Linked DNA regions of Homo sapiens: region 2 is linked to region 1. Evidence: fine-mapped expression QTL. A gene starts in region 1. The other region holds a variant in brackets. All regions are shown on one strand. Distances are between the middles of the regions. Region 1 holds the start of VSTM4 (V-set and transmembrane domain containing 4). Region 2 has its middle 20 kb from the start of MIR4294.

Evidence for each region. PIP is the estimated chance that this variant, and not a neighbour inherited with it, causes the effect.
Region 2: its variant is the best candidate, but not a certain one, in a credible set for the expression of VSTM4 in left ventricle (GTEx, PIP 0.63).

Annotation. Positions count from the first base shown.
Region 1 is chr10:49,112,921-49,118,304 of GRCh38, forward strand. VSTM4 (V-set and transmembrane domain containing 4) reads right to left here and starts at 2,602. Exons shown (of 8, transcript NM_001031746.5): 1 at 2,511-2,602. The coding sequence starts at 2,565.
Region 2 is chr10:49,002,943-49,008,326 of GRCh38, forward strand. No RefSeq gene overlaps it. Among named protein-coding and RNA genes, the nearest start is that of MIR4294, 20 kb to the left of the region's middle. The variant T/C (reference allele first, on the strand shown) is at 3,279.

The sequences.
Region 1 (5,384 bases):
AGCTGAATAGAACAACCTACTCATTGTGAAGTGGGAGATGGCCACTTCCAGGTGAGGGAGTAAGGACAACTAACAGAACAAGGCAGCAGCCTCATCTGGGATGCAGAGGTGGGCACAGTCCCTCGGTTCTGAGCAGGCCAGGGATGTGCTCGTAGCTGTGTGCCTCCCACTTCCTCTCTGCCTGAAGAAACTGCACCTGCTCACTTCAGGGAGACCAGAGCCTCTAAGTTTATAAGGAATGCAAACTGTCAGTACTGATCAGCAGCAGTGAGCTTTCTTATTAAAAGAATAGTCTGAATTCATACAGCTAAATCTCTGAAAGAAATAGTTATATTACTTAACAGTCTTTGGCACCAGGAGCCAGTATTTACTGAGCACTAAGCAGAGGTGATGCCAGACCTAGCCCATGGACTGATTCACTCACATTAGCCTATCACCTGAAAATAGCTCCATCCAGGATAAAAATATCACCTTGCCCAATGATAGAGGCTAATACCTGCCGGGTACAAACTCTATGCCCTTTAGATGTATTTTCTCAATTTATCCTGATACTCTGTTTATTCCCATTTTATAGACAAGAGGACTGAGGTACAGAGAGGCTAAGCCCTTGTTCAAGCTCACATAGTAAGTGGCAGAGCTGGAATTCGAACCTAGGCCATCTTGCTTCAAAGACAGCTCAGCCACCTCTCAAGCCTACAGATTTGCTATCGTAAATATATTGTCTGTCAGTTTTCTTTCCTGTAAAATGAGACATGGGACCAGGTGACCACTAGGGTCCTGGTCAGTCCCAAAATGGAGAGGCAGAAAAGTACAGCAGTTAAGAAGCTGTACTTATGTATAAAATGGGTCTGCCAGCCCCTCCCAGCAGGATCGTGGTGAGGAGTCATGAATGAGGCACTTAGAAAAGTGGGTGGCACACAGTGAGTGTCCCACAAGCAGGAGCTCTTATCATCCTCCAGGGCTGACCATGGGCACAGCCAGGGCAGACTCTAAAGGCTCCTGAATTCCAGCTCTCAAGGCTCCCGAGGGCTCTGGAAATGTGAGAATGCCCTTGATCCCCAGCAAAAGACAATCTCTGGGACACCCACTCTGACAGCTCCTGCAATTAGAAGGTGGTCATGGAGCCTGGGAGAGGAAGGACCACTGGCTGCTGGCTACTCCACAGAGACCACGAGAACTGGCCCTGCCCACCAGTCCAAGGCAAACTTCTCATCATTTTTCCAGCCGAGACAGTGACAACTGGGAAAAGGTACATTTCCCGCAGCAAGGATTTCAGGTTCACTGGGAACCTGGCTGCACTCATAGCTGGGGGACAGTAGATGGATTTCTTCCCACTGTTATCCAAGTGCCTCCTCCTCAGACTGGGATCTATGGATTAATGCTGGCTCAAATGCCAGCTCTACACTTGGTAGCCAGATCACTCTTGGAAAATGACTTCTGAGCATCAGTTTCCTAATTTTCAAAACAATGGCAACACAGTTTAGTGGTTATTGACAGAGCCCAGAGCCAGGCTAACTGGGTTCAAATCCCAGCTCCACCACTTACAAGCCTACTGAATTAAGGCAAGTCCGTTCATGGGCCTGAGCCTCAGTTTCCTCATCTATAAAATAGGGATAATAATAGCACCTCCTTCAGAGGTTATTGGTGAGATTAACCAAGTTCATGTTTTTTTTTTTTAATACTTGGATATATAAACGTGTTGTAGTCATTATTACTTGGAAGTGTTGTAATTAAATGAGATAGGCCCAGATAGGCACCCAGGGAAAGTGACCATCGATACCTGTATTATTACTATTATTCCAGCCAGTACGGCCCCTGCTGCCCTGAGGCAGCCAGACAGAGTTCTGGGGAATAAAGAGGGAAAATTCTTAAGACACTTACAAGTGGGAGCAGTAAAACCCGAATGAAAGCCATTAGTGTGGACCAAGAAGTTGTCCTCAAAGCAGGGTGCTGGTGGAGAGGCGTCGCTGCATCCAGCCGTGGATGCCCCTCTCACCAGGCCTGGTCACCTCAAAAGGCCCACGATCAAGTCCCCGTTCCCCACCTCCTGGCCAAGGCAGATCCAGCCGCTCCTGACTTGTCTTCGGAGTAACTCTCCGAAGAGAGTGAAAGGGAAGTTGCTGCTCCGAGGAATCTGCCAAGAGCTGTGTGTCCTGACTGCCGTGGAAAAAAGGAAAGCGAACCACCAACTTGGGCTGCGCTCCTGCTGCATCTCCCCTCGGGGCCTGCCGCTGGGAAGATCTCGGCTGCTGCGAGAGTACCCAGCCCCAGGCGAGGTCGGGACGGGGACCGCGCTCACGGGAGGCGTCCTCTGAACCTTGGGGAGGCGCCGCTGCGCCCGCCAGACCCTCGGCGAGCCCACCGGAGCGCGCTGGCGACAGTGACAGCGCCGCCCCCCGCCCGCGCCCGGAGGTGGCAGGGCCTCCCCACCAGGCCCGGAGCCCCGGCCTCCCCGGCGCGGCCGCCCGGCCCCCACCCTTCCCGCTCCCGCCTGGCCCCGCCGCGCTTACCCGGAGCCGGAGCCCGCGCCAGCAGCGCGGCCGCCGCCAGTGCCAGCAGCCGCATCTCCCCGCCGCCGCCCGGCGCTGTGACGCGGGAGAGCGCCGCCGCCTGGCCCGGCCGCCGCCAGCCCGCCCCGGGCCCGCGCTCGCGCCCGCCCCCGGCCCGCCCCTTGGGCCGCCTGCCACGCGGGGCCGGGGCTGCTGGGTCCCGAGGCCCGCACCGGGCGCGGGAGCCGCCGCGCGATCGGTTCGCTCCAGGATCTGTGGCGTCTCCTTTCAACAGCCCCATTTCCCAGATGAGAAAACTGAGTTTCTGCAAGGTGATCGCTGGTGACTCACAGAACACACAGCTGCAGTGCGACCGGCGGTCCTCTGCCCACAGATGCACTTATTCCTAAGGGAAGGCGGGATCTGGGAGCCAGGGGGTGGGGGCGCGTCCAGGGAACCTCTGGCCTGAGACTCACCTGCTGGTCGTGGGCCTCCTGCGCTCACTCCACAGGACCCTCGGGAGCCAACAAGCAGCTGAGGGGGGAGAAGCCCCTTCTGCTGCCCTGAAATGGAGGGCGGGGTCCGAGGTGCTAACCCTTGGAAAACTGAGAGGGTCCACACAGACCAGCCCAGAATATGTGGAAACTATTAACAAAAGTGCCCATTTACAGTGCCTCAGCCAGGCCTGGGCTAAAGTGATTTTCCAGATGCTACTGAACCCCGCCGCGGTCAGGCCTGGGACAGTTCTGTAATCTCCATGTGCCTCAGTTTCCTGCACCTGTAAAATGGGGAAATGGGCCCACCCCTTCTGGGGTGTTTAGGAAGACCAAGTTACACCATTCCCATTAACGCATTGCCCCAGCACCCGATTCACGGGTGTCAGTGAACACTACTATTATTACTATACATAAGGAAGCAGAAGCAGCCACATGAAAGAGACCCATGTCACACAACCACAGAGCCCTGTCACTCTGAGCCAATGCCTGGTCTCTTTGCCACTGTTCTAAACTTAGGGTCTGAGCCTAACCCATCTCCAAGCAAGAAAAGCACATGTTAGGTCTATTCTGTGTGTGTCTATCAGGAGAGGTCTTTGTGGAGTTCCAGTGAGGGGTAGCAGCAGCTAGCAGGTGGGCCCTGGTTGGGAGTGGGTCCCTGTAGGAGGAGGAGGAGACAGGGCCCTCATCTCCTTCCCTCTAAGGGAGTGAGGAGGTGTGGGTGGCATGGAAAGAGGGTGCAGCCCACTAGTGTGAGCCCCAGGGCATTCCCCAGAGGGACCATCCTCTTCAGGCACCCCAGGCCAGTGGGTGCAAAGGCTCTGTGACATCTCTGAACCCCAGGCACTTCCAGAGGTCTCTGGACCCCATGGGATCCTCCAGCTAGGAGACTCATCTGTGGACCAGGGCCCTGCAGGGACTGGACTGACCATCAAGGCAGCCAGGCTGGAGAAAGCAGCCCCATCTATAATTTGGGTTGGTGGAAGGGCCTGAGGACCCGATAGTGAGTTGGCAACAAAGGTACTTGGCTATGATGCCAAGGACAAGAAGTGAGGACTAGAACTGGGGTCAGATGGACTCCTGCAGCCCAGGAATGCAAACTAGAACCAAGTGAGGCTTCCAGACCAGAGTTTGGAAACCAATTTTATACATGAGCAAACGAGCCTCACGTCCCATCCACATAATGTCCTAGGCCTCATTTTACAAATTAGTAAATTCAGGCTCAAAGAAGACCAGGGACCCGTACAAGGTTCTGTGGGGCACCAAATGTCTGAACTGGGAACTTGGACTCTGACTGCAGACTGTTGACTCAGCCCTGGAGCCTGGGGCAGTGTTTGGCAGACTGAGGGAGGATGTCTGAAGAGGAGCACTGGTTCTGAAAGTGGATCTGTGACCCGCTCTGGCTGGGCAACAACCTTGGGTCCTGGAGCAGCACAACCTCTCTGAATTTCATTTGTCAAGTGAAGGTGACACATGTAAAATGGCGTCTTGACATGGCTGTACTAAGAGCAGCTAGAGATGTGGCAGGGCCATTTGGTATCCTTGGTAACCTCCCACCTCAACCTGCTGGTCTCAATTTACTCTCCCAGTTGGTGAAAAGCAGAAGGGACCCCTTAGATGTGTCAGCCACCCTTGGAGGAGGCAACTCCTGCTTTGGTCGTTGTATATTGCTAAATATCCAACTCTCATTGCAAAACAGAGCAGAAATTCAGCCTGCCACCCTTGACTTGCTTCGTCTTTACCAAACTGGGGTTGTGCCAAAGATTTGAGGCTAGAAAGTGCTTTTCTTGTACTTTTCTGCTACAGGTAACATTGTGCTGATTTTACAGCTGTGTGCACTGCTGGTACTTTTCAGCTTCCCATATAATCTAACTGATCATCCTGGTAAAACCTTTGCTGCATGAACACAGGAACAAGGGAATATACTCAGCCCTCATGGGAGACAGAGCCAGTGACCCGGATAAGACTTGGCCTTTCAGCTCTTCTGGACTACATTGGCAAAGGCCTTCCAAATGGTTTTCTTAGCTCTGCTGCCTGCTCACTCATTCACAAGCTTAGGACCATTTGAAAATCCTTCACAGGCTTCTTTGTCCATACCTTGGCTCTATCAGGTCTTACTTTGTACTGAATTGGAAGAATAATACAATCCAATTCTATTTTTTGTTTACCTCATAAGAAGAGGGTGTTCAAACCATTCTAAAGTTGATCCAGATTCCTGTGGACACTAAGCTATATGGAGAGCCTACTCAACTAATCCTGTATTCTACCAGTTGCCACTGAAAGAATCTTAGAAATCCAGATTTTCTCCAACAAGTGCATTCTGCTATCACCTGGCAGGCCGGGGCTTTTCCTCTTTCATTATCCAATTGTTTGTTAGAACCTGGGTCAGAGATGGAAGAGT
Region 2 (5,384 bases), 110 kb before region 1:
AATATTGCAGCTTTTCTCATTCAAGCCACTTCAATCCCACCTTATCATTGAGTTAGATAAATAGAATGGTCTTAATTACAAATTAGATACCTAATTTAGTGACTAATTTAGTAACTAAATTTTATCCTTGGTTATCATTAATTGAATATATCACAATTTCTAAATGTCCCTCAAAGAGAACATTGACTTCCAAAGACATCTTCATTGCCACAGTGTGGGACTTCGTGCTCCTGAAAGGCGAGGAATGGCAATGACAGCAGCCCGGGCACATGAGGGGTTTTCACAAAGCTCGTAGAAAATGCTTATGATGAAAAAACTATGATGCATTTCAAATTTTTTGCATCATAATAAAGTCATAATAACTCATTATAACATTTTTGAACAGCATCTAGTTTGAGACACTAAGAAGGATCAGACATCAGTTTGAAAACCACTGCTCAATGAAATAAAAGAGGATACAAACAAATGGAAGAACATTCCATGCTCATGGGTAGGAAGAATCAATATCATGAAAATGGCCACACTGCCCAAGGTGATTTATAGATTCAATGACATCCCCATCAAGCTACCAATGACTTTCTTCACAGAATTGGAAAAAGCTACTTTTAAGTTCATATAGCACCAAAAAAGAGCCTGCATTGCCAAGTCAATCCTAAGCCAAAAGAACAAAGCTGGAGGCATCACGCTACCTGACTTCAAACTATACTACAAGGCTACAGTAACCAAAACAGCATGGTACTGGTACCAAAACAGAGATATAGATCAATGGAACAGAACAGAGCCCTCAGAAATAATGCCACATATCTACAACTATCTGATCTTTGACAAACCTGAGAAAAACAAGCAATGGGAAAACGATTCCCTATTTAATAAATGGTGCTGGGAAAACTGGTTAGCCATATGCAGAAAGCTGAAACTGGATCCCTTCCTTATACCTTATACAAAAATTAATTCAAGATGGATTAAAGACTTAAATGTTAGACCTAAAACCATAAAAACCCTAGAAGAAAATCTAGGCATTACCATTCAGGACTTAGGCATGGGCAAGGACTTCATGGCTAAAACACCAAAAGCAATGGCAACAAAAGCCAAAATTGACAAATGGGATCTAATTAAACTAAAGAGCTTCTGCACAGCAAAAGAAACTACCATCAGAGTGAACAGGCAACCTACAAAATGGGAGAAAATTTTTGCAACCGACTCATCTGACAAAGGGCTAATATCCAGAATCTACAATGAACTCAAACAAATTTACAAGAAAAAAACAAACAACCCCATCAAAAAGTGGGCAAATGACATGAACAGACACTTCTCAAAAGAAGACATTTATGCAGCCAAAAAACACATGAAAAAATGCTCACCATCACTGGCCATCAGAGAAATGCAAATCAAAACCACAATGAGATATCATCTCACACCAGTTAGAATGGCAATCATTAAAAAGTCAGGAAACAACAGGTGCTGGAGAGGATGTGGAGGAATAGGAACACTTTTACACTGTTGGTGGGACTGTAAACTAGTTGAACCATTGTGGAAGTCAGTGTGGCGATTCCTCAGGGATCTAGAACTAGAAATACCATTTGACCCAGCCATCCCATTACTGGCTATATACCCAAAGGACTATAAATCATGCTGCCATAAAGACACATGCACACGTATGTTTATTGCGGCACTATTCACAATAGCAAAGACTTGGAACCAACCCAAATGTCCAACAATGATAGACTGGATTAAGAAAATGTGGCACATATACACCATGGAATACTATGCAGCCATAAAAAATGATGTTTTTCTGTATGTTCTTTGATTGCTCCTTTGTGTGACAACAATTTTATTATACAACCTCAAATAGAAAGATAATTCAGTCTTTAAAAAAAAAGAAAAAAAAATCCCTTTGAGAACAACATGAATTTTGCTAAAATTGAAGTAAGAACAAACATCAAATTTATTGTGAGGTTTGGGTAAAAGAATGGTGATATTATCAATGCTTTAACAAAAGTTTATGAGGACAGTGTCCCAAGGAAATCAGCAGTTAACAAATGAATAACTCGTGTTGAGAAGGGATGAAACGATGTTGAGGATGAAGCCTGCAGCAGGAGACCATCCACGTCAGTTTGTGAGGAAAAAAATTCATCTCGTTTGGGCCCTCGTTGAAGAGGACCAATGATTAACAGCAGAAACAAGAGCCAACATCATAGACATCTCCACTGGCTCAGCTAATACAACTCTGAGAAAAATTAAAATTGAGCACACTCCACTCCATGGTGTCAAAACCATTGTGATCAGCAGACAAGAACAGAGTTTTCAATGAACATTTTAAACAAGTGCGATCAAGATCCTGAAGCATTTCTTTGAAGAATCGTAACAGGATATGAAACATGACCTTACCAGTATGATCCTGAAGACAAAGCATGATCAAAACAACACCTACCAAGAGGTGGAAGTGGACCAGTCACAGCAACAGTGGACGGGTCAAGAGGAAAGGTCATGGCAACTGTTCTGCGGGTTGCTCAAGGCATTTTGCTTGTTGACTTTCTAGAGGGCCAAAGAACAATAACATCTGCTGATTATGAGAGTGTTGAGAAAGTTAGACAAAACTTTGGCAGAAAAACACCCGGGAAAGCTTCCCAGAGAGTCCTTTGCCACCATGGCAGGGCTCCTGCTCATTCCTCTCATCAAACAAGAGCAATTTTCTGACAGCTTTGATGGAAATCATTAGGCATCCACCTTACAGCCACGATTGGGCTCCTTCTGACTTCTTTTTCTTTCCTAATCTTAAAACATATGTAAAGAGCATCCATTTTTCTTCATTTAATAAGGTAAAAGACTGCACTGACATGGTTAAGCTCTTGGGATCTTCAGTTCTTTAGGCTGATTAAATGGCTGGTATCACCATTTACAAAAGTGTCTTGATGTTGATGGAGTTTATGTTGAAAAATAAAGTGTGTATATATATATATATATATATATATATATATATATATATATATAAAAATTCAATTTTCTCATAAACTTTTTGAAGTCCCCTTGCATTTATAGGGCACTGGGTCTATGAGAGGCCATGTGCTGTTTATGATGAAATGACTCTTAGGAAACATGCACCCTTTGAAAGCAGGGACTCAAACAGGTCCTTACACACCCATGTTCATAACCTCACTATTCACAACAGCCAAAAGCAGAAACAACCCAAATGTCCATCCACAAATAAATGGATGCGCAAAATGTGGTTGTACATCCAATGGAATATTATTCAGCCTTATACAGGAAGGAAATTCTGA[T/C]GCATGCTACAACATGGATGAACCTGGAGGACATTATTCTAACTGAAATAATAAGCCAGGCACAAAAAGATAAACCCCATATTGATTTCGCTACAATGAGGCACTTAGAATAGGCAAATGTATAGAAATAAAACCATTCTATTGTAAAGATACATACACGTGTATGTTCATTGCAGCACTATTCACAATAGCAAAGACATGGAATCAACCCAAATGCCCATCAATGATAAACTAGATAAAGAAAATGTGGCACATATACGCCATGGAATACTATGCAGCCATAAAAAGGAATGAGACCATGTCTTTTGCAGGGATATGGATGAAGCTGGAAGCCATTATCCTCAGCAAACTAACACAGGAACAGAAAACCAAACACCACATGTTCTCACTCATAAGTGGGAGTTGAACAATGAGAACACATGGACACAGGGAAGAGAACACACAACGAGGCCTGTCAGTGGGGCACGGGAGGGAGAGCATCAGGATAAATAGCTAATGCATGCGGGGCCTAATACCTAGGTGATGGGTTGACAGGTGCAGCAAAGCACCATGGCACATGTTTACCTGTATAACGAACCTGCACATCCTGCACATGTATCCCAGAACTTAAAATAAAATATTTTTTTAAAAAAAAGAAACAGAAAGCAGAGTGGTGGTTCCTAGAAGCTGGTGAGTAGAGGGGGATGAGGAGTTATTAATGGGGACAGTTTCAGTTTGGGATGATGGAGAAATTCTGGGATGGATGGCAGAGGTGGTTGAACAGCAATGTGATGCATTTAATGCCACTGAACTGTACACTTGAAAACAGTTAAAATGGTAAATGTTATGTAAGTTTTACCACAATCAAACAAACAAAAAATAAAAACAGGGAAACATGTATCCTAGTGGGGGCAACCCGGCAGGGGCACATGCAGTGTACTGGAGCGCTCAGAGGGTGGATGCAAGGTCATCTGTTCTGCATGGGTCTGACTTGGCCTTGTGCATGTTTAAAAGCTCCACTTCTCTCTGTTTCGAGATGTCAGTGTGTGAGCTGCAGAGTCACACAGTTACTCAGAAGAAAACACAGAGCCTGTCTGAACATCACAGATTGCAGGGCAGACAGTGATGTGGTGTCACTGGAGGATGAAAGGCAACTTGATATGGATGAAGAGCATGAGGGGGTAAGCCTGTCTGGGTATAAGGAGGCAGCAGGAGACGCCCCTGCCTTCGTTAAATAGCTAGGAAGTCCTAGAATGGGCTGAAATTAGACCAACTCCTGGTCCTTCCTCGGAGAGAGTACTTAAAATATGTATGTGTTGAATTCAGGGGAAAAATACAATATACCAGGAACACACTTTGCAAACTATAAGCAGCTTACAAACATAAGTGGCTCTCACAACCTTGCTCCAGAGCTGGGATGAAATAAAATTTTGTCTTTTGCTTTTTAAAAATCAGTTCAAGCCTGTACACAGTAGCCTGAAACTATCTAGATACTGAGGCCAGGCTTCTTCTTAGGAAGTTGAGGACATTTCCTCCAGACCCAAGATCTTAGCTGTGGTTTTCTGACTGGGGTGCCTCTATTTATTTATTCTTTTTTTTTTCTTTTCCTGAGACAGGGTGTCACTCTGTTGCCCAGGCTGGAGTGCAGTGGCGTGATCTTGGCCCACTGCAACCTCCACCTCCTGGGTTCAAGCAATTCTCCTGCCTCAACCTCCCGAGTAGCTGGGACTACAGGAGCATGCCACCATGCCCGGCTAATTTTTTTATTTTTAGTAGAGATGGGGTTTCACCATATTGGTCAGGCTGGTCTTGAACTCCTGACCTCAGGTGATCCACCCACCTCGGCCTCCCAAAGTGCTGACATTACAGGCATGAGGCACCACGCCTGGCCTGGGGTGCCTTTAGATGCTGCTGGGGAGAGCTGAACTGAGTGTGTGGGACTAGCCCTGAGCTGGCTCCCTGGTCCACACTGGTCCAGTGTTTCTCTGTACAAATGTGCCAGCTCTTTCTTGTTTTACAGAGAAGGAGCCTCTGCAGGGCCCCAAGGTGTGAACACTCAGAATTCCCATCAAGGCCACCCTGGCCCCACCACAGCAGAGGGTGCTGCCAGCCACCTCAGCCATGTCC